2 separate regions of the Homo sapiens genome follow, and region 1 is linked to region 2. The links come from fine-mapping of genetic effects on plasma protein levels. Region 2 holds a variant in brackets. A gene starts in the other region. All regions are shown on their forward strands.

Region 1 (2,908 bases), not on the chromosome of region 2:
GTGAGCTGTAGTCACGCCACTGCACTCTAGCCTAGGCAATAGAGGGAGAGCCTGTCTAAGAAAAAATGTCACGAGATGCTGTCTACTTTACACTGCTTCGTATCAGGAGGCATCTGATGGTAGGTGATCCTGAGTTGGAGTACTGCGTTAAGGTGGTATGGGGGGCAGGTGCAGTGGCTCATGCCTGTAATCTCAGAACTCTGGGAGGCCAAGGCTGGCAGATTCCTTGAGCTCAGAAGTTCAAGACCAGACTGGGCAACAATGGTGAAACTCCATCTCTACAACATAATACAAAAATCAGCCAGGCGCGGTGGCTGATTTTCTCCCAGACTGAGGAGGGAGGATCACCTGAGCCTGGGAGGTCGAGGCTGCAGTGAGCTGTGATCACGCCACTGCACACCAGCCTGGGTGATCAAGTGAGACCCTGTCTCAAAAAAAAAAAAAAAAAAAAAAAGGTGGTATGGGGATCCACTTTTTTTTTCTTGAGACAGGTTCTCGCTCTGTTGCCCATGCTGGAGTGCAGTGGCAGCATCTTGGGGATCCATTTTGAACCTCTTCAAGCTTGTCCCACCTGAGGTCTGCAGCCACATGTGGCCCAGGACCACTTTGAATGTGGCCAAACACAAATTCGTAAACTTTCTTAAAACATTATGAAATTTAGGCAGGGCACAGCGGCTCACGCCTGTAATCCCAGCACTTTGTGAGGCTGAGGCAGGCAGATCACTTGAGGTCAGGAGTTCGTGACCAGCCTGGCCAACATGGTGAAACCTCGTCTCTACTAAAAATACAAAAATTAGCCGAGTGTGGTGGCACGCGCCTGTAATCCCAACTACTTGGGAGGCTGAGGCAGGAGAATCACTTGAACCCAGGAGTCGGAGGTTGCGGTGAGCCAAGATCACACCACTGAACTACAGCCTGGATGACAAAGTGAGACTCCGTCTCAAAAAAACAAAACTAAAACAAAGAAAAAAAAACTGAGGTTTTTTGTTTGTTTGTTTTTTGAGATGGAGTTTCGCTCTTGTTGCCCAGGCTGGAGTGCAATGGCGCGCAATCTCCACTCACCGCAACCTCCGCCTCCCGGGTTCAAGCAATTCTCCTGCCTCAGCCTTCCCAGTAGCTGGGATTATAGGCGCGCGCCACCACGCCCGGCTAATTTTGTATTTTTAGTAGACATGGGTTTCTCCATGTTGGTCAGGCTGGTCTCGAACTCCCAACCTCAGGTGATCCGCCCGTCTCGGCCTTCCAAAGTGCTGGGATTACAGGCGTGAGCCACCGCGCCCGGCCAAAACATTGAGGGTTTTTTTGGCGATTTTTTTTTAAGCTCATCAGCTATCGTTAGTGTTGGTGTATTTTACGTGTGGCCCAAGACAATTCTTCCAATGTGGCCCAGAGAAGCCAAAAGATTGGACACCTCCATTTATAGTATAAAATGAAAGCCACTAGGCTTTCGGCTCAGCCCCTTTTCCTTACACTGCCAGTCAGCTGCGCTCAGGGACCCGCAGTTCAGAGTTCAACACGGGCAGATTCCCTCTCTTCCTTGCTTGCTCCTGCCAGCCGCAGCCGTGGGCCAGTACAGCATGGCCCGGCCCCGCCCCGGCTCTTTCCAGAGGTCCGCAGCCTGGCCGGCCCAGCGGGCGGAACCGATAGTGTCTGGCACTTGGCTCGCCCGGACTCTGAATCCTGGAGCACCAGGCGCCCACGAGAACGCTGTTCTCTTTGGCTTCCGGGCGCACGCTACTCTGTCGCCGCCGTCAGACCGGAATTGCCGGTGCCGCCGCCACCGCTGTCTGTGCGCCCACCTCTGCTGCTACCATGGGGATCTTAGAGAAGATCTCGGAGATCGAGAAGGAGATCGCTCGGACACAGAAGAACAAGGGTGAGGGCCGGCCGGGCGGGGCCTTCCTTTCTGCCTGCCTCAGTTTTCCTGTCTGTAAAATGGGGGAACAACTCCAGCAGTAATGCTGGGGCAAGATCCGAGGCCGCGGAGAAGTTGCCAGACAAGTGCCGAGGCCGCCCTGCGCGCCCAAGGCAGGGCCAGGCGGGAGCGGGTCTCACGCCCAGGTCTGACTGCAAACGTACCCCAAGAGATCTGGTCAGTCCCAGACCGTGTGCCCGAGTAGAGTAGTCCCAGCTCACAGAGCAAGCATCTGACCCAGAGAGAGGCGGAGCTGGGGTTCAAACCTCAGTCTCCTGATGGCTGGGCCTGGGGCCTGGGTCTACTCTGTTGTTTTGGGAAGTGCAAGAGGAGACCTCTCAGGAACAGCCTCACCCAGCAGCTGAGAGCCCATTGGAGCAAGGGAATCAGGACTCTGGAGTCTGGAAGGCCTGGGTTTGAGCCCCAGGTCCACCACGTACCTTCTGTAAAACATTGGAAAGTCACTTCATTTCTTGGAGTCTCAGTGTCCTCATCTGTAAATGGGGTAATACTCCCCTGCTCCATCTTAGTACACAGCTGAGTTAAATTAGATGGCCTTTACAAAGCACTGGGCACATGGTGAGCACTCAGTATTTAAAGTAAACACCCCAACATAGATAATACATAATGAAGCCTCAAATCTGGACTTTAGAATGTAAGGGCTGGAGGAGCTCACAGAAGAGAGGTGAGGAGAGAACGATGACACCAGGACAAAGTGGGACTTGAGCTGGTTGTTGGAAGGGTATCCCAGGTGGGGGCCACTGCTGAGACAAAGACATGGGAGTGAGCATGGTATGTTCATGGGACAGTGAGAACAATCTAGATCAGAAGGGGGTTATGGAAGAGTAATGGGAGATGCAATTGGCCAGGCTAGTGGCTAGCCATTCAGGCTTGTGGGAGCAGGAAGCAAGCAACACTAGATAGCTGGTCCCAGTGTCTGCCCTCCCTTGGTTCCATTTAGGTTTGAAGGCCAAGGAGTTGAGGGCCCTCTAT
Region 2 (2,890 bases):
TTTCATAAAGCTAACCATGTTTATTTAGCCATTTTCTTAGCTTTTGCCATCATGGTTCTTTGAAAATTTTCTTTGTAATTGCTGCAATGATTTTGGAGATCACAGATGCATGCTACTTGCTCAAGTTTATTCTTGGAAGTCGTATTACCAAATTAAAGGTTCTCAACATTTCTCGGGGTACTGCAATTTTTACATTGCATATGATAATTGTTATTACTGAGATCTACATTCCTTTCATCAATTCACAAATACACAATCACAGACATCTTGAGATCTATCATACGTCCAGCTGCGTTCATTTCACAAAATCAGAAGTTAAGCCTAAAGATCTGAACCGAGAAGCCGGACCTCCGGTCTATTTCTCCCTCCTGGATCCACCCCGACTTATTAAGCAGTTAGACCGACCCTTCCATACTCATTCAAGGCAGTGCAGAGCTTTTGCTCCCCTGCCCAGTGGAATCTACACTGGTCCCAGCCTCTCGTCCAACTCCCGTAGGACGCCAAGCAATACGGAGTTCGAGAAGCTCAGAAATCTCCTGAGCCCCACCAGTCCACACTAGGTTGCAAGCCCGCAGCACCTACGCCACGGCGTCAAACCGGAAACCAGAAAAGGTGAAGGCATCGGACGCCCCTCGCCCCAGCCCGGCCACCAGCGACACTATCCTTCACTGACGCGCGATGCCGGCCTTTCAGCCCAGACTCATCGAGCGAGGATGCAGCGCTGAGAGGCTTCTAAGGCTCAGGCCCTGCAAAGCCCAGGAGCCGGCTGTAGGTGTCCTTGGCGAATGCCAGACCGCGCGCACCGTCCCAGCAAGTCCCGAGCGAGTGTGGGACAGGCAGCAAATCAGTGCCCCCTGGCCAGGCAGAACGAGTCGAACGTGGAAGTAGGGAGCAGGCGGAGGCCGGCGCGGAGCTGCAGTTAAGCAAGCCGGGTCTGGCTTTGGGCCCTGGGCCTTCCAGCCGGGGACTCTGCGCCTGCGCCCGCCTGGCCGCCGCCCGCTCTCCCGGCGCGGCA[G/C]CTGTCTGGGCTGCTGCGCGCCGCCTAGGTGTCTGGGCGATCTATGGGCAAGAGCAAGGGCCACGATGACAGATTACGGCGAGGAGCAGCGCAACGAGCTGGAGGCCCTGGAGTCCATCTACCCTGACTCCTTCACAGGTGACTCCCGCGGCCGCAAGCCTGTAGCCGCCCCGAGGTGGAGTAGGACGGGCAGGAGCTGCCGCAGCTCTGGGCCTCATAGGTTGGGGTGGAGAAGGGGACCTTGAGGCCGCGCGGCCACCTTGCCCTCCACTCCTCAAGTTCTTCAGTCACTTACCAGCAACCCAGTGACTTTTTCTCCTTCTCTGCTTGTTCCCGGAAATCTAAAAGTCCGGGTGATGTTGGAGGGTGTCAGGCCTGAAAATTGAGTCGGGATTACTTTGGTTTCTGTGTAACCTACAGCAACCTGAGATTTATAATACATTAAGAGAAAAAATACTCCAAGTGCGATTCGTTTTTCCACAGCCGCAAGAATGTTAGTTTTCACATTTTTAGCTTTATTAAGGTAGAAACTGTTTTTCATACGATGCTGTTTTAGTTTATAGGATTCAGAGTGCTGTTTTCAGTTACTCAAATCGGTTTTGAGAGTAGCATAGTCCCTGAAGTCTGTCGGGTTTCTTTTCTTATGAAAAAAAAAAAAATCTGGCATTCAGCAGAATGCCTAATGGATAATGTGGCCCAAATTTCCGTTCTGCTATAAATTCATAGGTTGTTAGATTGGAAGGGAGATTAAACATCATCTATCCTGGGGCTCCTGCTCCAAGCCAAGGTCATGGGGGTTCAGGAAAGCTAAGTGGCTTGCTCTGTACTGTCCGCCAGCGAGTTAGCGGCAGGGCTGGTACTGAGTTATACGTCCAGAACGCTTGCCTGTTCTTTCACTTTCCAGACATATGGGACTTGGGATTCAGCTCCAGCTGAGATTGAGAGAGCAGAAGATTACTTGGTAGGTTGGGCTAATGTAAAATATTATAATGAGAAGTTCATTAGGTATAATTTAGAGGACGAGATTTCTCTATTAAGCCATGCTTCGGATGATTATAAAAATGCTACATAACTATATCAATATGGCTCCTCTGAGATTTGAGAAGCGGTCAAATAAAGCCAATATGAGTGAGTAGAACCTAGGTGTGTGCATTTACATTCCCCATCCTTTCCTTTGAGTGTTGCCTATCGTTGATAGTCAGAATTTATAGTGTAAGGTATATTACTTTAACTTATAAATTCCAACCCCTCTCCCTTTCATTGTTTAGCTTAGTTTTCTTGGCTTCACCTTTTGACCACTGCTTGCAATGGTAGCAAATTTTGTTCTGCTTTGCCAACAGGCAGATGTCTCTCAGCTATCCCTGTATAGCTCCAGTCCTGTTCATGTTCTCTCTCACCAGCAGTACATCTGTGCTGTGAGGATGTTAAGGGGATGAGTGAAGAGGGGTTTGAGAGTGTCATTAACTGGGTGAGTGTGTATGGAGTCTGGCTCCCTTCTCTATCCTTGCTTATATGTGTATGTCTAAAATAGAATATAGGGTCAGTTGTTGGATATATTCTTAATCATGTTTGGTCATTTCCAGTACTTTGGAAACATACTAGGTATGAACACTGTAGGCAGAGTCAAGACAGCAGGATGTGCTATTCTTTTCATTTCTTTGGACATAAGCTATCCCTCGCTAAATCCTATGCATATAAGCATTTATAAAACTGATATCTTTTTTTGTTTTTAACCCTGAAATAATCTTGTGGGTATTTCAAATTGTACTAGGCCCTGACAGCTCTGGTATAGTTCGCTATGTGAAATTCTTATCAGATGCCCAAGTGCTTGAGGATTCTGAGCCAGGGTAATAAAAGACAATTTATGAATCTTTT

Evidence for each region. PIP is the chance, under the fine-mapping model, that this variant and not a neighbour inherited with it causes the effect. Protein levels are from antibody-based Olink assays in UK Biobank. Linkage for the fine-mapping came from a reference panel and not from the study's own genotypes, which makes the PIPs less certain.
Region 1: DRG2 starts here. The variant in region 2 is fine-mapped to the plasma level of the DRG2 protein (UK Biobank, PIP above 0.99).

Annotation. Positions count from the first base shown.
Region 1 is chr17:18,086,212-18,089,119 of GRCh38, forward strand. DRG2 (developmentally regulated GTP binding protein 2) reads left to right here and starts at 1,737. Exons shown (of 13, transcript NM_001388.5): 1 at 1,737-1,876. The coding sequence starts at 1,813. RefSeq lists enhancers at 1,395-1,554, 1,620-2,121, 1,745-2,064, 2,115-2,164, 2,122-2,621.
Region 2 is chr6:116,570,503-116,573,392 of GRCh38, forward strand. RWDD1 (RWD domain containing 1) reads left to right here and starts at 1,002. Exons shown (of 7, transcript NM_015952.4): 1 at 1,002-1,153. The coding sequence starts at 1,081. RefSeq lists enhancers at 397-576, 607-936, 1,157-1,256 and a silencer at 977-1,056. The variant G/C (reference allele first, on the strand shown) is at 1,016.